Linked DNA regions of Homo sapiens: region 1 is linked to region 2. Evidence: fine-mapped expression QTL. A gene starts in region 2. The other region holds a variant in brackets. All regions are shown on one strand. Distances are from middle to middle. Region 1 overlaps ASB11 (ankyrin repeat and SOCS box containing 11). Region 2 holds the start of ASB9 (ankyrin repeat and SOCS box containing 9).

The links. PIP is the estimated chance that this variant, and not a neighbour inherited with it, causes the effect.
Region 1: its variant is fine-mapped to the expression of ASB9 in whole blood (TOPMed, PIP 0.99).

The regions. Positions count from the first base shown.
Region 1 is chrX:15,290,855-15,301,178 of GRCh38, reverse strand. It overlaps ASB11 (ankyrin repeat and SOCS box containing 11), which reads left to right. Exons shown (of 7, transcript NM_080873.3): 3 at 3,498-3,605; 4 at 7,859-8,009. Among named protein-coding and RNA genes, the nearest start is that of ASB11, 20 kb to the left of the region's middle. RefSeq lists an enhancer at 2,658-2,952. The variant C/T (reference allele first, on the strand shown) is at 5,595.
Region 2 is chrX:15,264,763-15,275,086 of GRCh38, reverse strand. It overlaps ASB9 (ankyrin repeat and SOCS box containing 9), which reads left to right and starts at 5,004. Exons shown (of 7, transcript NM_001031739.3): 1 at 5,004-5,306. The coding sequence starts at 5,213.

The sequences.
Region 1 (10,324 bases), 26 kb before region 2:
CCAGCCTGGGCAACATGGTGAAACCCCATCTGTACTAAAAGTACAAAAATTAGCCAGGCGTGGTGGTGGGCGCCTATAATCCCAGCTACTTGGGAGGCTGAGGCAGGAAAATCGTTTGAACCTGGCGGGGTGGAGGTTGCAGTGAACCGAGATCGCGTCACTTCACTCCAGCCTGGGTGAAAGAGTGAAACTCTGTCTCAATAAAATAAATAAATAAATAAAATTAAAAAGGTGCACAATGAAACGTCTTGCACCCACCTCTTCTCTCTCAGTCTCCCACCCACCTCTTCTCTCTCAGTCTCCCACCTCAATACTTTCATTGGTATATTTTTAATAGGCTTTTTAAATTTTTGTATAATTTTAAAGAAGAGTTGAAAAGGATACAGACAGTTCCCATATACACTGTACCCTTCACCCAACTTCCTTTAATATTGACATCTTACATAGCTATGGTACATTAGTCAAAAATACGAAGTTAACATTGATACAATACCACTGACTAAACTGCACACTATTGTGATTTCACCAGTTTTTCCTCTCATGTCCTATTTCTGTTCCAGGATCCCACATTGCACTAACTATACTTAATAAGCATATTAGCTTCAATAATATGGTTAAATGTGTAAGGGGGCATTCTTTATACAAAAGTTCAACTTTTTCTTTTACACCCCTACTTCTTTACTCTTATACACTGTTAAAAAATGTATTTGTCTACTTTTATAAACTTTATTTTACATTTAGATAATATGATCGATGTGAGTAAAACATTAAACCGATATGAGTAAAACATTAAGCTAATGTGAGTAAATGTGAGTAAAACATTAAACCAAGATTCAGGAGCTCTTGGTTACACTGCTGGCTGTCACTGACAACCAGTCTTAAAAAGTATTTGAACATTCTACTCCTCCATTTTCTCATGCACAATTGAGGTGATCCACTCTAGATGATCTTTCAGGCCTTTCCAGCATCACATTTCTACAATTTCAGGGATTCTGAGATTTTGCACCGTAACAGTTTTTTCTAGCACACTTCTGCCACCTTGTGGACTAGTCTGTTTTTTCTTATTTTCTCAAAAGGAAAAGAAAAATGAAAAGACTTTTTCTAACTCTTATTAGATGCCCAGTTTGAAATATGTAGCACAGATCTAGAGTAATGATGTCATATTCAGGACATGAAAATAGACAGAATTCAGGAGTCAAAAAGAGGCCTTATGATGAAGGGACAATTCTGGGAAATCACAGCTGCTGGCCACAGCAAGGATGCAGCCAGAGATCTGGCAGGAGATGGTGGCCGTGTAAGTAGGAGTTCGGGGTTCAGGGTCATGGCATTGGGTTTTGGAAGCTTTCAGTTGGTCAGTTACAAGGCATAGGATCAAAAGCAGGACTCGGCTGGGAAGGACAGACCAGGGACCTAATTCCTTTTATAAATCAAAAATAAAATTCTAAGCACCCCCTCTCCAACCATCTGAATGTACCCCTCCTCTCAGCCAGGGCATTCCAAAACTAACCTGAAAAACTGGTTCAGGCCATGACAGGAAAGGGGGGTTGAACATGCCTCATTATACCCTCCTCCCTTTTGGAACTCAGGAAAAGATGACCAGAATTTAACATCAACACAGACCTTAAGTCTGATAAGAAACATTTACAATCTATTCTCTCTGAAGCCTGCTACCTGGAGGCTTCATCCACATGATAAAACTTTTGTCTCCACAACCCCTTATTGTAACCCAGACAGACATTTCTATTGATAATAACTCTTTCAACCAATTGCCAATCAGAAAAATTTTCAATCTGTCTATAATCTGGAGCCCCAGGCCCCCACTTTGAGTTGTCCAACCTTCCCAGGCCAAACAAATGTACATTTTACATGTATTTGATTGATGTCTCATGTTTCCCTAAAATGTATAAAACTAGGCTGTGCCCTGACTACCCTGGGCACATGTTCTCTGGATCTCCTGAGAGCTTGTCACAGGCCATTGGTCACTTATATTTGGCTCAGAATAAATCTCTTCAAATATTTTATAGTTTGACTGTTTTTGTCAACACTTTTGCAGATAGAACGTGATCATCAGAGGGAGGGAAATGGTAAGAGCCAAGTTGTTAAAATCAGGTTATGAAGTCAGAGTTGTCCAGCAGCTAGGCTGACCTTGTCATCTGTCACATGGAGTCCAGGACAAGGAAGGGGACACATGGTAGTATGGGGAGGGAGAATGTGTTAGGACAGGGTGGAGGCACTCATACCTGGGTGAGGAGATGAAGGTTAGGAGAAGTCCGCTGGCCCCGGACTCTAGGACTTCAGAGACCTCTGCACACAGTGGAGTCATGGCTGAAGCAGTGCTGCTACTCCACAGCACATGAATCCTAGGAGCACAGTCTACTTACTCTTAAGCCTGGGAGTTATTGTTTTGTTTCAGATCCAGCTCGACCTCCTGAACTTGTCTGCACTCCATCATCTATACCTCATACCTACTGTTATTCACAGCCACAGCAGGCCCATGCCAGCCTGTTCCTAGACTCATAGTGACATCTCTGTGGCTCTCCTTGCTTTGGTCTTACATCCCTACTCCTGCAATCAACCCTCCATGCTGCTACCAGTAAGCTTCTAAAAAGGCTAATCTATTAGCTCCAGACCCTCCGCAGCCTAGCAGACTTCATAGGTGCTCCATTTCCTCTAAGACATGCCCTCCTTGTTTGGAAATCAAGGCCTTTCATGACCTAGCTCCAGCTTACTGTCCTCCTTTGTCTCCTCCCATCTCCTGCTTCTACTTTCTGTGGGTTCTTTCTGTTCCAGAAATCCGACTGTGGCCCTGCCACAGGAAGCAACAGGAAGCAACAGGAAATAACTTCCTGTTGCTTCCTGAATTTGCAGTTTCTATTCTCTCCTAATGGCATACTCTTTCTTGGTCTTCACAGCTTGAAACATTTTATGCTTCAAGTCTTAGCTAAATACTACCTCATTTGCAAGGTTTTTCTTACTCCCCAAGCCAGATTCAAGGATATCCTATGCTCCCAAACTAATTTTGGACATGCTTCCAGTATAGCAATATTCTTGCTCTTTTGTCTTTCATTTCTGCCTCCCCAGTAGGCTCTGGGAGAAGAGAGACCCATGTCATAAGTTTTGAAGACCCAGGTCCTAGTACATTACCTGCTCCAGAATGCAGAATTAACATTCTTTTGGATAAATGAATGTGAGGCTGTCATGCTGTCTTTAGGCTCCCCTGATCGTAACTTCTACTTCTCTCTCTATGGTACTAATATTACACCCACAGACTGTGAAAATGTCAGAAACATGTGAAACAACATTGCTTTCATTGCTATCACTAATGCAGTATTTCACTCTCTTCTGCTGGGCTTGGTGGCTTGCACTTGAAATCCCAGCTACTCAGGATGCTGAGGCAGGAAGATCACTTGAGGCCAGGAGTTTGAGACCAGCCTGGGCAACACAGTGAGACCCCAGTCTGTAAAAAATAAATAAACTCTCTTCTTTCTAAATTATAGGGTGTCAATGTGAACCTTGTGACAATTAACCGGGTGTCTTCTCTCCACGAGGCATGCCTTGGAGGTCACGTGGCCTGTGCCAAAGCCTTATTGGAAAATGGTGCACACGTGAGTACTGCCCCTGCCCACTTGGGTCTGTCTGGCCAGATGCATCTGTTAATGTTTAATGATAGTTTACCTTCCAGATGGCTTACCCACTGTGGGTAAGGGCTGGGCTGGTTCTATCCATGTCCGTATTCCATCATTTAGGCTACTCCTCTCTCTTCAACTTACCCCCCTGTGTGTAAATATTCAGACATGGCAACTCACAGGAACCTTTTAAAACTGTGTTGCTGACCTTAAGAAATCTTTATTGTACCATGTTTTTTTTTTGTTTTGTTTTGTTTTGTTTTTGAGACGGAGTCTCACTCTGTCGCCCAGGCTGGAGTGCAGTGGCACAATCTCCGCTCACTGCAAGCTCTGCCGGGGTTCACGCCATTCTCCTGCCTCAGCCTCCCCAGCAGCTGGGACTACAGGCACACGCCGCCACGCCCGGCTAATTTTTGTATTTTTAGTAGAGACAGAGTTTCACTGTGTTAGCCAGGATGGTCTTGATCTCCTGACCTTGTGATCCACCTGCCTCGGCCTCCCAAAGTGCTGGGATTACAGGCGTGAGCCACCGCGCCCGGCCTTGTACCATGTTTTCTTTATGCATTCATCTGTTGGTGGACACTTGGGTTGCTTTCAGGTCTTTGCAATTGTGAACAGTGCTGCATCAGACATGGGAGTGCAGATATCTCTTGGATATACTGTTTTCCTTTCTTCTGGGTATATACCCAGCAGTAAGATTGTTGGATCATATGGTATCTCTGTTTTTAGTTTTCTGATGAACCTCCAAACTGTTCCCCATAATGGTTGTACTAATTTATAATCCCACTAACACTGTATGAGGCTTAATAACAAGATTTTAAAGAACAATAGAAAACACTCTTAATTCAACACCTTAAATGAACAACTATTTTTATTGAGCAAAATTATCAAAATGAGCGAGCTTTTAATAAATAATACATTGGGGGAAACCTACAGAATTGAACTTTATCTTATTTTAAATTTATCTCCAAACTTTTTTCAAAGGGTGACTGAGGTGCAATATATAATACAGATATCAGAATAGAATCATAAAATCACAACTTCTAAAAATCTTCTGTGTTTAGTTGCCAGATGTTCTTTGTTTCTAATTTTGTTGTTTAACTCAGTCCTTGCATTATTTACTTTATGAGCTGCAATGTTTTTAAGTGCTTAATGACAATTTAAAACATTTTATATGGAAATCGGGTTTCTACATGTAGAACTGAATATAAAAGTCTTCCTTGTGAAAACTAATTTTCCTGATGCCATTGTGGTCGTGCATTTTCTTTTTTTGTTTTTTTTTTTTCCATCTTTTTATTTTTAGACAGAGTCTCACTAACACTGTTGCCCAAGCTGGAGTGCAGTGGCACAATCTCAGCTCACTGCAAACTCCACTTCCTAGATTCGAACGATTCCCCTGCCTCAGCCTCCTGAGTAACTGGGATTACAGGTGCCCGCCACCACGTCCAGCTAATTTTTGTATTTTTAGTGCAGTAATTTTTGTATTTTTAGTGAAACCAGCGATGCTGGTTTCAGACTCCTGACCTCAGGTGATCCGCCCGCCTTGGCCTCCCAAAGTGCTGGGATTACAGGCGTGAGCCACCGTGCCCTGCCAAGTGGTCATGCATTTTCATTAGGTAGTGCTTCTCTAAGTTACCACTCAGTCAGCTCATGGGTAATGATGAAGGAAGGCTGTGTGAGAGCCGTTTCCTTTCAAGCTAGATGACTGGAGTCACAGGCAGACTGCTGACAATATCAGGTCAGAGAGGAGGTTTTGTTGGGCACAAAGAGAAGAATAAGACATGTTTCCTTGTCTTTGTCAATTTTATAAAGAAACAGCCAATAAATACTGTAGCACACCATTTAACATTTAAATCAGAATGAGAAACGAAATAAGAGAAAGTTGGTCCATCAGTAGAAAGTCCCCCACAATTGGCAGTCCCATGAATACCTCAAACTCAGTGCATTTGTAACTGAGCTTATCATGTT[C/T]TTCCCTCTGGGACCTGCTCCTCATCTTGGGTTCCTAGTTTCAGAGGCCTGGTGAAAGAAACATCCTCTTGGTTTCCCAAGCTGCAAACCTGAGAGTCATCTTATTTCTTTCATCTCCCTATCTAATTAATTAAAAACTCCTGCTAATTTTACTTTCTAAGTTTTTCCCAAGTCTATCCTCTCCTTTATCCTACTCCCATAGTCATCTAAATTATTTATTATATTTTCAAAATGATTTCTTTTTGGCCAGGCACAGTGGCTCACGCCTGTAATCCCAGCACTTTGGGAGGCTGAGGCAGGTAGATCATGAGATCAAGAGATCAAGACCATCCTGGCCAACATGGTGAAACCCCGTCTCTACTAAAAATACAAAAACTAGCTAGGCATGGTGGCACGCGCCTGTAGTCCCAGCTTCTTGGGAGCCTAAGGCAGCAGAATCTCTTGAACCCAGGAGGCGGAGGTTGCAGTGAGCCGAGATCACACCACTGCACTCCAGCCTGGCAACAGAGCAAGACTCCATCTAAAAAATAAAAAAATTAAAAAAAATTCTTTTTGTATTTGTCTTCCCTAATGGAATTCAGCCTACTCAAGGAGAGGCAATTGTTCAGCCCACTCAAGGAGAGGCAATTGTCTTATCATTGTTTCCAAAACATTAGCACCTAGTAGATGCTCAATAAATGTTTGTTGACGTGAACTAAGAGAAATTTATAGGAAATCGCATAAGAAGACAACTTCCTAGACTGAGGGTGAGGATGAAACTTAGTAAAACACAAATCAAACTAGTCCTACCAAATATTTTTTAGTAAAAATATAGAAACCCCTAGCAATATAAATTTACACACATTTTCCCCTGACCTTGTCTGTCTCTGCCATCTTAGCATATTATCTTTAACTTTCCAATTTAATGGGGGTTAGGCTGGGTGTGGTGGCTCACACCTGTAATCCCTGCCCTTTGGCAGGCTGAGGCAGGAGGGTCATTTGAACCCAGGAGTTTGAGACCAGCCTGGGCAAGATAGCTAGACGCTGTCTACAAATAATTTTTCTAAATTTGTGGGTCATGGTGGTGCACGCCTGTAGTCCCAGCTGCTCAGGAGGCTGAGGCAGGAGGATCATTTGAGCCTAGGAATTCGAGGCTGCAGTGAGCTATGATCATGACACTGCACTCCAGCCTGGATAGCAGAGCAAGACCCTGTTTCACGGGTTATATTGCAACTCTGGAAACAAGTCTTTTTTTGTGTCCAAAGCAAGGACATTTAGAATCCTGATTATCACAAGCATGCATCCTTAGTTGTTGAAGCAAAATTGTTTCACATCACAAACTTGACTGTCCTATATTTCAATGGCATCAGAGGCTCCCTACCACTCCTGCGGTTCCCGATGTTCTTTCCAATCTATTGCTGATACACAAAGATGTCTCCCAGCCCTGCTGGTTCTCATGTGCTTCCCACATCCCTACAAGGTACCAAAGATGGTTGCAGACACCATGTTGATGGCTATTTTCTTTCCTTTTTTTAAATTTAATCTTTTAATTTTATTTATTTATTTTTATTTTTATTTTTTATTATACTTTAAGTTTTAGAGTACATGTGCACAACGTGCAGGTTTGTTACATATGTATACATGTGCCATGTTGGTGTGCTGCACCCATTAACTCGTCATTTACATCCTAATGCTATCCCTCCCCCCTCCCCCCACCCCACAACAGTCCCCGGTGTGTGATGTTCCCCTTCCTGTGAAACCAACCCAAATGTCCAACAATGATAGACTGGATTAAGAAAATGTTGATGGCTATTTTCTATGTCCCTTTGGCTTGGTCATGCTATCTCTAGAAGTAACAGCTGGCATGTGTAATTTGCATGGATTATAGTAGACCAGAGAGGAAGTTGTGGCAAGAAAGACAGTAGATCTGTGGAGAATTGCCAAGGATTTTGTAAGCATGGATTTTGGGACCACAGCCTGCCATGTTTGTTCATGATTCAGAGGGGAGTCATATTAATGGAAAATGGAAAATGGAAATAATTGTTGTTGCAAATGCTTATTGAGTGCTTACTGGGTGACATGTAATGTTTTAAGTGTTTACATATAGTAACTCGCTCGATCCACCCAATAACTTCATGAGGTTTCATAATACTGTAAAGATGTGGAGTTCCCTCACTTATTCACCAGCGTGGGGAATTCCTCTAGGCAAATACATAGGAAGACATACTTGGAGATGGTGAGAATGAAATAACAAATCCTTTGGGTCTCTCTTTGCCCATCATTAGGTCAATGGAGTGACAGTTCACGGAGCCACACCCCTCTTCAATGCTTGCTGCAGCGGCAGTGCTGCATGTGTCAATGTGCTGCTGGAGTTCGGAGCCAAGGCCCAGTTGGAGGTGCACCTGGCCTCGCCCATCCATGAGGCAGTGAAGAGAGGTAAATGAGCCACCACAATGCATGTGAAACATTGATGGGCTCACTCCAATCTGTATGAATCAATGGTCTAGTGTTAGTCATTCAAGGGTGACCCTGATCTTCCTCACCATTAGAATATGTGTGGCCTAGAAATCCCACAGCAGTAACTTCAATTTGCCTAAATCTTCAGGAAATACCAGTGTGGCACAAAAGAGCCCTACTTATAACTTCGGAATGCTTTCCTGACTCCAATTTCCCATTTCCTGGGGATGGTCTATTGGCAGGCCTTTCCAGATCCTCTTTGCTGGTGTTTTGGTGGCAGCTGGTACAGCCAAGGCAGTAGTTCTGACTTCCCTGAATTGTACTATGCTTATGTCTCTGTCCTTAGTAGGCAAGAATAGCTTATCCTCTAAAGCCCATAAAATACCAACCACTAACCTAAAATAAACTATGAAAGTATCTGAAAGCCAAGGCTGATACTATCTCTAATGGAATAGTAAATATAACCGTTCATAATAAGTTACACAATCTAGATGGGCTGATGACTTCAAGGTCATAGTTATTGAAAAGAAAAGGCTGCAACTTTCCAAAGTATAGCATTGGTAATCTTGAAGCTGACTCTAGACTCCTGTGTTGTCAGTTAATTTCCAAGTGAAGGAAAATAGTAAATTTAAGGAATTTAAAGACTGTATGTACAGACTAGACCTGAACCGAGAAGATGCCACTGAAAGGAGAAGGCCATTTGTCAAAGGTCACACCCAAAGAGCAACATTTTGATGATAGCAAGTGAGGGAGTTGTTCTCTTATACTGAGATCAGAAATACAATGGTGAAGTTAAAACACTCTAGAATAGTGATCTTTGCTGGTGTAACTGGAGATGAAATATTTTATTTCAAAAAGCAAAAGTGAAAGATTTGTTCCAGGTTATTAAACATGTCACTTGCCAATTTTTTCCAGTGGATTACTTTAAATGATGCAAAAGACCCAAATCTAAATTTATCTATGTATTTTATGTTCTAAATGTATTTAATACATATTTATTAATTAATAGCTGATGTTAGTCATTTCCCAAACATCATGTAAGTCCTTTAAGTTGTAGAGTAATGAACTACTTTGGAAATGATATAAATGTCTTTCTTTCTTTTTTTTTTTTTTTTCGACAGAGTCTCGTGCTGTTGCCCAGGCTGCAGTGCAGTGGCATGATTTCTGCTCATTGCAACCTCTGGCTCCTGGGTTCAAGCGATTCTCCTGCCTCAGCCTCCCAAGTAGCTGGGATTACAGGTGCCCGCCACCACAATTGGCTAATTTTTGTATTTTTAGTAGAGATGGGGTTTCACCATGTTGGCCACTCTGGTCTCGAACTCGACCTCAGGTGATCCACCTGACTCGGCCTCCCAAAGTGCTGGTATTACAGGCATGAGCCACCGTGCTCAGCCATATAAGTCTTTTTTTTTTAATTTTTTTAAATTTTTTTTTTATTTTTTGAGACAGAGTCTTGCTCTGTCTCACAGGCTGGAGTGCAATGGCACAATCTCGGCTCACTGCAACCTCCACCTCCTGGGTTCAAGCAATTCTCCTGCCTCAGCCTCCCACGTAGCTGAGATTACAGGCACCTGTCACAGTGCCCAGCTGATTTTTGTATTTTTTAGTAAAGACAGGGTTTCATCATGTTGGCCAGGCTGGTCTCAGACTCCTGACCTCAGGTGATCCACCCACCTCAGCCTTCCAAAGTGCTGGTATTACAAAAAGTCTTTATTAAAAATTTAATATTGATTTGAAGTAAATTTTTGAAGTAAAAATTAATATTATTTGTATTTCCATACAAATGTTTAAAAATTGATAAGTACTGAGAATGGTTTGAATTAATTAAGTATGTCTGCAGTGCTTGACTGATTATATTTGGAGCTTTTGGTATCTATGTGCCTATAAAACATATATATGCTCATAATAAACACATAATTTGTGTGTCTCTGTATATTTTTCTGTACTGTAAAAGCATGTTAAGGATAAATATCCACAGAATGTAAGCATGATTAGCAAATTCATTATTTTATACACTTGTATTAGTGCTAGCTATTTAACTTTTCTGTATTCATTTTTAAAACTTTCTGAGAATATTTAAATTTAACTCAAACTAGGCTGTTTCTTGTTCTTCAAAAAAAAGACAAGAATTATTCAAAAATATGTATTAAATACCCTGTATTTTCCAAGTAGTTTTAGGGACTTACTAGATATTATTTCTGGATTCTTATAGCTCTAAACCTCTATGAACAAGCTGAGTCATAGTTTGAGTCAATACCTTGACATATTGATGCTGTAATTCAGGTATAATATTT
Region 2 (10,324 bases):
CAGGCTTTATACATACTTGTGTTTTGACTGCGCAGCTTACATTAACTTTTTATACTTGGTGCAAAATATGCATAAAGGCATACATTTCCCTTTTGGCCTCTTGCTCCCATATGGTTCAGCACAGAGCAGTTCAGTGTGCATCTCCTAAGAACACAGAGATTCTCCTGTGGAACTGTGGTGTAGTAATCACACACAGGAGGTTTGACACTGATGCACAACTATCCTGTATATCCAGATTTAAGTTCTCACACTTGTGGCATTAATGATATATTTTCTGTCATGTTCCACCATTCAGGATCTCTTTGAGGATCATGCATCGAACGTAGTTACCAAGTCTCTTTATTCTCTTTTAATCTAGAAAGCTTCCCGTCCCCGCTTTTGACTTTCATGCCATTGGCATTTTTGAAGAGTCCAGTCCCATTGTTATGTGATTATCTCTCAATTTTGATCCGCCTGATTGTTTCCTCAAGAATACTGCATAATGCCAGATTTTTGAAAAAACACATTCTTATTTGAGTCTTATCGTACTGCTTGGCGGAGTAGGACTGACTGACTTCTCTCTAAAGCAGTAGAAGCAGAGTATTCCACGTTGTCAGAGCAGATGTATACCTTTTAGGTGTTAAAGGTTTTGTGCTAGAAAAATTGCCAGCTGAAATAAGAAGAAGCTTCAGCTCCTGGACCAACTTTGACTGATTGGAAGTGACTTTGAAGGCTCCCCCAAGGTCTCAGTGTAACTGAGCATCCCAGCCTCAAAATGCATTTTAAAACTTTTTTTTTTCTTTCTTGCTTTCAGCGTTGAAACATACTTTGAAACTCTTTGTTTCTCTCTTTTCCACCAGGCACTTTTGTGAACAGTGCTCACTTATCTAATTACATGCTTGCTTAGAAATTCCAGGGGTCAATTTTTAAGCAAAAAAAAAAAAAAAGGCACAGAGACCCAGCAGCAGAATCCTCCTGCTTGGGGGAGTTATGAACAGTTAGCCCACCACTACCGGGCAGAAGTGAGGATGACACAAACTGGACTTCCGGGCTGGCGATTAGTAAAGATAGCCATGGGAAAGAGACACACAGAGCTCTTCCCTCCCTTGATATTCCCACATTTTCCCACACCTTTTTCCTCCATAAACCCCTTCACTCAGCCCAAAAAGTTGGAACGGTCTTTCAAAGGCAGGCCATTCTCCAACTGGTAATGTGTCCGGAGTTGGTTCCTTCCAGTGGGTTCTTGGTCTTGCTGACTTCAAGAATGAAACCATGGACCTTTGTGGTGAGTGTTACAGCTCTTAAAGGTGGCACAGACCCAAAGAGTGAGCAGCAGCAAGATTTATTCTGGAGAGTGAAAGAACAAAGCTTCCACAGCATGGAAGGAGACCCGAGCAGGTTGCTGCTGCTGGCTGGGGGGGTGGCCAGCTTTTATTCCCTTATTTGTCCCCGCCCACATCCTGCAGATTGGTCCATTTTACAGAGCGCTGATTGGTCCATTTTACAGAGTGCTGATTGGTGCATTTACAATCCTTTAGCTAGACACAGAGCACCGATTGGTGCGTTTTTACAGAGTGCTAATTGGTGCATTTACAATCCTTTGGACACAGAGCGCTGATTGGCGTGTTTTTAAGTGCTGATTGGTGCATTTACAATCCTTTAGCTAGACACAGAGTGCTGATTGGTGCATTTTTACAGAGTACTGATTGGTGCGCTTACAATCCTTTAGCTAGACACAGAGCACTGATTGGTGCGTTTTTACAGAGTGCTGATTGGTGCGTTTACAATCCTTTAGCTAGACACAGAGCGCTATTGGTGGGTTTTTATGGAGTGCTGATTGGTCCTTTTACAATTCTTTAGCTAGACACAAAAGTTCTCCAAGTCCCCACTCCACCCAGGAATTCCAGCTGGCTTCATCTCTCAGCAGCATTTAGATAAAGTTGATTTCCTTTCACCATACCTCTCGCTTCTTAAGTTTTCAGCCTCTTAGCAGCTGGACTTGAGCCGGCTACATTGGGGAGGAAAGAGTCTCCTAAACCATACCTGAGGTGTGCCTTGGACATCTAAGTGAGGGGTGGGGCAGAGGCCCTGGCTAGTGTGAACACTGCTCCTGGTGAGGAATGACTGTGGCCTTATCATCTGCTGCAGGCAACGATCATTCTGTTTTCTAACCTAACCTGTGCCAATTTCACTGAACATCCAGACACACACACTGACACACACCAAGGCTGACTAGAAGTTGGTAAGATTGCTTTTCTCTTATGGCTGTTGGTAAGCCAACCAATTTCTCCATAATCAAAGCTCATACACATGTGATTCAACTTTATCCTCATACAAATCCACAAATGCATGAACTCCCCTTGTAAAGAACTGTTGTTAAACAGTTTAAAAATTCATCTCCAATCCTCCTATTCACTGGTGTTGATCAACATCATAAATAAAATGAGAAGATTAAAGGCTGATGAATTAATTCCCTCCCAGGTACTAGGGAAACAACCTGGAAATCTTCTTTATTGTCATTTTGGAACTTAATTTTGAATATGGAAAAGGCTTATCTACTTGGAATTTAATTAAAAGTAAATAAAGAAGCTGTAGTACAAAGATTTTACTGGGAAGGAAAGGAAATAGTATCCAGTTTCCCCATTGTGCCCTTCTGTTCAACTCCTCATCCAGTCTGTGTTGGGAATCAATTCCTCACTCTCTGCCAAACAAATGTATCATTCTTCAGATCTTTCCTGATGGAGTGGTAAAGAATTTGTATGCTTATGGCCTTCTCAGTTAATTCTGCAAATAGAGATAGAGGGAAGTTTAGTAGTGTTTATCCAAATTTTAAATGAGCAGCCTCTTTTCAAAAAGTGCAATTTGTATTGAGATCATTACAGATTCACATGCAGTTGTAAGAAATCACATAGAGATCTCCAGTGCACTTTGCCCAGTTTCCCTCAATGGTGACTTTTTGCAAAACTATAGTACAATATTGTAACTGGGAAATCAACATTCATACAATCTACTGATCTTATTCAATTCCCCGGTTTTACTTGTACTCATTCCTGTGTGTGTCTTCAGTTTTATACAATTTATTACATGTGCATAAGTATGCCTTTGACTTAGCATTTCCACTCTTAGGAATCTCTCCTCTAGAAATATTTGCCTATGTGCACAAAGCCACATGTACAAAAATATGAACTTTAGTCCTTTCATAGTACTAACAGAAATAATGACATTCTGCTTGCATCATTAGGAGCATAATTAAATACTTCTGGCACAATATGGAATGCTATGCAACAGTGAATAAAGACAGGAGCATACCTATAAAAGCTGATATGGAAAGCTCTCACAGACAAAATAAGTGTAAAAAGCATAGAATAATAGAATAATATAGGGGCCGGGTGCGGTGGCTCACGCCTGTAATCCTAGCACTTTGGGAGGCCAAGGAAGGGGGATCACGTGAGATCAGGAGTTTGAGGCCAGCCTGGCCAACATGGTGAAACCCTGTTTCTACTAAAAATACTAAAATTAGCTGGGCACAGTGGTGCGCTCCTGTAATCCCAGGTACTCAGGAGGCTGAGGCAGGAGAATTGCTTGAGCTCAGGAGGTGAAAGTTGCAGTGAGCCGATATGACACCATGGCACTCGAGTCCAGGTGACAAAGTGAGACCCTGTCTCAAAAAAAAAAGAATAATATAGGTACATTTATGTGGAAAATGTAAATTGATAAATGTGCATACATGTGTATGCATATAAATGCCTTTAAAAACGTGAATTACACCCCTCAAACTGTTAATAACAGCCACCAAATGTTTTAACTGAGACTCCGTAAATCTAAAACATCTAGGCCTCATCTTTGGCATTAAGACAAATCTGCAATCACTTCACAGCCAGTCTATGCTTGAGACTTAACTCAGAGCCTTCCCCCATGGGGATGAAAAATCCTCTTCTACCTGGAAGAGAGGAATGGTGGGAGTCTAGAGGTGCCTGTCAGCCTGAAGTAGCACCCAGGGGTGTGAGGCAACTGGGTTTATCTGAAAAGACATGGACACAGTACATCCAAATTTTTTTTTTTTTGAGGTGGAGTCTCGCACTGTCGCCTGGGCTAGAGTGCAGTGGCATGATCTCGGCTCACTGCAACCTCTGCCTCCTGGGTTCAAGCGATTCTCCTGCCTCAGCATCCCGAGTAGCTGGGATTACAGGCGCCTGCCACCAGGCCCAGCTAATTTTTTTGTATTTTTAGTAGAGACGGGGTTTCACTATGTTAGTCAGGCTGGTCTCAAACTCCTGACCTCGTGATCCGCCCGCCTTGGCCTCCCAAAGTGCCGGGATTACAGGCATGAGCCACCGCGCCCGGCCCCTAATGTTTTGTATAAGCAAAAACAGCAAAACGTTAACAAAATAAATTTTAGTAATTCACAATGAAAAGATAGCAGGTCTCTTCCACATCTCAGGCCACCTAGCAATCCATTTTTCCAATTGCAACCGTTCATTATTTATTTAGAAGTTAAAATGAGTGGAGGAGGGGTGAGGTAGGACATTTAGTGAAATTCTTGCAGCTGAAAGGAACAAATGGTTCTTTCCAAAGGTACATTTTTTGTAACATATAGACACATTTCCCATAAGAAACTCCCAGCACAATTGAAAGCACATGTACAGATGGCCAGGGCGTGCTGTGCATGTTACTGTGCAAGCAATTCAGCAGGGCTGCTGCAAAACCAGCTTTCTCAGCTCTGGGTGCTCGGGCTTGTCTCCATAACAAGCTACCATGTAACAAACGGATCTCAGCAGGGTGAACAACAGTTGCAGAAAGTGAGCTGTTTCCTTCACCCCCACCCTGCTCCCTTCACTCTCAAAAGTTACAAACTGAGTTTCCTTCCTGATAAACTCCAAGGCTTCCTCACTGATTGGTCTCAGTTTGGGAAAGGACGTGACATCAGCAACTTCGCAGACTTAGGGCTGGAGGGTTCTTGTGGCCTCTGGCGGGCCTCCAGCCAGTTAGGTAAAACGTGTGTGTGTGTGTGTGTGTGTGTGTGTGTACACGAGCGCATGCCTCTCTCTGATCACAGGTAGCACTCAGATTACCCTGCCTGCTCTGTGCTTTGCTGCAGACCATTTGACCAGAACGTGTGCAGCTCAGCCAGCCACAGAACTGGAATTTTTCAGGAGCAGGGGGAGCATGGAGTTTGGACTTTGCTGAGCAACTGAAGTGGAGCGCAGAGCTTGCTCGCTTAGGAGAGAGCATCATGGATGGCAAACAAGGGGGCATGGATGGGAGCAAGCCCGCGGGGCCAAGGGACTTTCCTGGCATCAGGCTTCTTTCAAACCCATTGATGGGCGGTGAGTCATAGGGGCAGTGGAATCAGCCCTGGGGAGGTTGGCTAATGTGCTTAGGAGAGGAGGGTTGGGCAGTTTCAGTGGCTCTGTGTGAGGTGTCCATGGGGCTGTTACTGGGCAGATGTCCACAGCTCACTGGTATATATTCTTTACACAGCTGTTCAAAAATGTGTATACTTCTTTCTGCAGAATCCTACAGACAAGACAAATTCAATTGTCACAAATTATTCTCCAGTGAAAATTTCAGCTCCCAGGAATCATTCTTTGTGGGTCAAATGCATTATTTATTAAATTGGAGGTTTGAAAGTTACTTATAAATAGGAAAATTTTTAATGCTAAAACTTTTTAATTTGTAAGTCTTAGGTGTTTGGCATTTAGGTGGGGCAGGGTTTATAAAGATGTTCAAACATTGAGCACTGATTGAGTCACTTTCAAAAGAGACAAAAGAGACTTTGTTTTACTTAAAACATTGGAGAATCATCTTACAGGTATTGTTCTCATCTGTCAAGTGGTGTCTGTGCTAATGTACAGAATCCCACAAATACACACTTCGGTGAGCATTCAGCAGGTGCCTGTTGGCTGAAAGGATTCTGAAAAATGGGTTTAGGCATTTGCACACAGGTTCTTATAAATAATAGTATATTGGTTAGTAATATACTGGTTAACTCTCCAGCCCCAAGTCTGCAAACTTGCTGATGTCACGTCCTTTCCCAAACTGAGACCAATCAGTGAGGAAACCTTGGAGTTTATCGGGAAGGAAACTCAAAGTTCGTAACTTTCGGAGAGCAAAGGGAGCAGCAGGGTGAGGGTGAAGGCAACAGCTCACTTTCTGCAACTGTTGTTCACCCTGTTGAGATCCTTGGGGGCTTGTGACGGAGACAAGCCCCAGCACCCAGAGCTGGGAAAGCTGGTGTTGCAGCAGCCCTGCTGAATTGCTGTATTTATTATTTATTAATTTTTTTTTCTTTTTGAGACGGAGTCTTGCTCTGTGGCCCAGGCTGGAGTGCAGTGGCGCGATCTCGACTCACTGCAACCTCCGCCTCCCGGGTTCAGGCCTGTATATATAGGCGGGGCACGGTGGTTTACGCCTGTAATCCCAGTACTTTCGGAGGCCGAGGCGGGCAGATCACGATGTCAGGATACCATCCTGGCCAACATGATGAAATTCCGTCGCTACCTAAAATACAAAAATTAGCTGGGTGTGATGGCACGTGCCTGTAATCCCAGCTACTCGGGAGGCTGAGGCAGGAGAATCACTTGAACCCGGGAGGCGGAGGTTGCAGTGCACCTAGATCTCGCCACAGCACTCCAGCCTGGCGACAGAGTGAGACTCCGTATCAAAGAAAAAAGAAAAAAATATATACCTGGTATACTGTCCACAGCACCTGTTGATCAAAGGGGCAATAAACAGGGACCCTGAAGTCAGGGTGTTTTGTTTTGTTTTGTTTTTTTGAGACGGAGTCTCATTCTGTCGCCTGGGCTGGAGTGCAATGGCGAGATCTCCGCTCACTGCAACCTCTGCCTCCCGGGTTCAAGAGATTCTCCTGCCTCAGCCTCCCGAGTAGCTGGGATTATAAGCGCCCGCCACCACACCCGGCTAATTTTTGTATTTTTAGTAGAGACGGGGTTTCACCACGTTGGCCAGGCTGGTCTAGAACTCCTGACCTCAGGTGATCTGCCCGCCTGGGCCTCCCAAAGTGCTGGGATTACAGGTGTGAGCCACCACGCCCGGCCGTCAGTCAGGGTTTATTAATCTACTATACAGGTACCAAAAAGGTAAAAATGGAAGAAATAAAACACAAAACGTCTTCCCTTTGACTGAGTAGACTAGCCTGCTCATTCATTCATTCATTTATCCAATTTCACTTATAAAATGAGCAGAGTACTCAATGGTGAGTGGGATTTAGATCCACAAAGGCAGAACTGGATTAATCAGCAGATGTATTGAGCATGAGTTTGGAGAACTAGGAAAGCAAGAGTGGCATCAAAAATCACTTTTCACAAAGAATTTCTTTTTTTTTTTTTTTTTTTGTTTTTTTTGAAGTGGAGTTTCACTCTGTCACCCAGGCTGGAATGCAGTGGAGCAATCTCAGCTCACTGCAAACTCCACCTTCCCGTGTTCAAGCGACTTTCCTGCCTCAGCCTCCTGAGTAGCTGGGATTACAGGCGTCCGCCACCACACCCAGCTGATTTTTGTATTTTTAGTAGAGACGGGGTTTCACCATGTTAGCCAGGATGGTCTCAATCTCCTGACCTCGTGATCCGCCCGCCTTGGCCTCCCAAAGTGCTGGGATTACAGGCGTGAGCCACCACGCCCGGCCACTTTTTACAAGGAATTATATATATAATTATATATATATATATATTTTTTTTTTAGATGGAGTCTCGCTCTGTTACCAGGCTGGAGTGCAGTGGCACCATCTCGGCTCACTGCAACCTCGGCCTCCTGGGTTCAAGCAATTCTGCCTCAGGAGGGAGAGGCAGGGACTAGGTGGGACTACAGGCACACGCCTGGCTAATTTTTTGGGGTGTTTTTTTTTTGTATTTTAGTAGAGACGGGGTTTCACCATGTTGCCCCAGGCTGGTCTCCAACTCCTGAGCTCAGGGAAGTCTGCCCGCCTCGGCCTCCCAAAGTGCTAGGATTACAGGTGTGAGCCACTGTGCCCGGCCGATAAATATATTTTTAAAACAGCAAACCAATCATTATGGGAAAGAATCGGTAATTTGGTTGACTTCTGCACGGTTATTTTATAGCTAAGTATTGTATTTATTTTTGTTTCCACATGGGAGAGAGGCACCAGCCACTTTTCACTGTTAGGGTTTCTTTTTCTTTTTTTTTTTTTTTTTTGAGATGGAGTCTCGCTCTGTCGCCCAGGCTGGAGTGCAGTGGCACAATCTTGGCTCACTGCAAGCTCCGCCTCCCGGGTTCACGCCATTCTCCTGCCTCAGCCTCCTGAGTAGCTGGGACTACAGGCGCCCGCCACCACGCCCGGCTAATTTTTTGTATTTTTAGTAGAGACGGGGTTTCACCATGTTAGCCAGGATGGTCTCAATCTCCTGACCTCGTGATCCACCCACCTTGGCCTCCCAAAGTGCTGGGATTACAGGCGTGAGCCAACTGTTCAGGATTTCTAAAGTTCCTAATACAACCCTGGTGGGGTCAGGGTGGGTGAGTGGGAGTGGGCAGGTGTTATACGCAAAGGCATGGTGCTTGTAAAGTCAACAAGTTTTTACAGCTAGAGTGCAAAATGTGAATGTCTTAGGGAGTCTAGTGAGAACAAGTTTGAAGAGATGGAGTGGCAGATAAAGCTTGAAGAGCTAAGTGGAGGAGGTCAGGCTTCATGAGGCAGGAAATTGAGAGCCATTGGTGGTTCTAGAACAGAGACCTGGTAATAAGGCTGTAGGTCAATTAACATGGTAGCCACAGCTGGGATAGATTGTGTTGGAATCGTGGGAGATGGTTGCATTCATCCAGTGGTTCTCAAATTCTCATGTGCCTCTACATCACCTGGAGAGCTTATTGAAATACAGATAATGCAGCTTCTGGCTGGGCACGGTGGCTCACGCCTGTAATCCCAGCACTTTGGGAGGCTGAGGTGGGCGGATCACTTGAGGTCAGGAGTTCCAGACCAGCCTATCCAACATGGTGAAACCCCATCTCTACTAAAAATACAAACATTTGACTGGGTGCAGTGCCTCACACCTGTAATCCCAGCACTTTGGGAGGCCGAGGCAGGCGGATCACCTGAGGTTGGGAGTTCCAGACCAGCCTGACCAACATGGAGAAACCCAGTCTTTACTAAAAATACAAAATTAGCCGGGCATGGTGGTGCATGCCTGTAATCCCAGCTACCCGGGAGGCTGAGGCAGGAAAGTCGCTTGAACCCGGGAGGCAGAGGTTGTGGTGAGCCGAGATCACACCACTGCACTCCAACCTGGGCAACAAGAGTGAAACTCTGTCTCAAAAAAAAAAAAAAAAATTAGCTGGGTGTGTTGGCACATGCCTGTAGTCCCAGCTACTTAGGAGGCCGAGGCAGGAGAATTGCTTGAACTTGGGAGGGCGGAGGTTGCAGTGAGCTGAGATCATGCCACTGTACTCCAGCCTGGGCAACAGAGCGAGACTCTGTCTCAAAAAAAAAAAATGCAGATGATGCAGCTTTTGATGAAGTCGTAGGCCTGGGGTGGGGGCCTAGGAATCTGCATTCATAACAAACTCCCAGGTGAAATGGATGGTACTGGTCAGGGACCATACTTTGAAAACTACTGCACTAATCCAACCATGAAACTTACATTTGGATCGAACTTTGGAAATGACAGAGAAAGGGCGATGATTTCAAAGGAAAGATAAATCAGCGTATGTTGCTTGATTAAATGTTGGAACTAACAGAAGGCAGGCAAAATTATAAGGTTCTCAAGCCCAAAGTAATGTCAGATAAGCTAGATAAGAGGGAAGTTGGAAAGGAAGTTGCCTTGGATGCAGGATGAGGAGGGGAGGATACAGAGTTCTGTTTTGGACATGATAGTGCTAACAATGATGCCCAGTGCACAGTATGATGACATGGGACTGAGACTTAGGAACGATCACAGGTTAGAAGCCAGATACCTCAGAATGTCCTACAGAGGGGCTGTGGTTGAAACCTAGGGAAGGGAGAAATTGTCCAATGGCTAAGAGCTGAGAGTCAACCAAGGATGGAACCCTGGGACAGGCCTCCAGTTGATGAAGTAGGACCAGTAAGTTGGACAGAGAAGCAGAAAGAGATTCTGGATGTTGTAATTACACAGGTGCTAAGGGAAGAGAAGTTTTCAAAGAAGTAGAAGTCACAAGGGTAGGTGCCTGGATACTTCTGGTTTCTTACCTCCTGTTGTGAATCTGACTGGCAAATTGCTACTCACCTTCTACACCCAGCTGAGCCATTGCCCCCATGAAGCCCTCCTAGACTTTCCACCTCTCCCTACTCAAGTGGAGTCATTCTCCGTCTGCTTTGCATCAGTCCTGCCCCTTGGGTAAAACCTCAATTGTA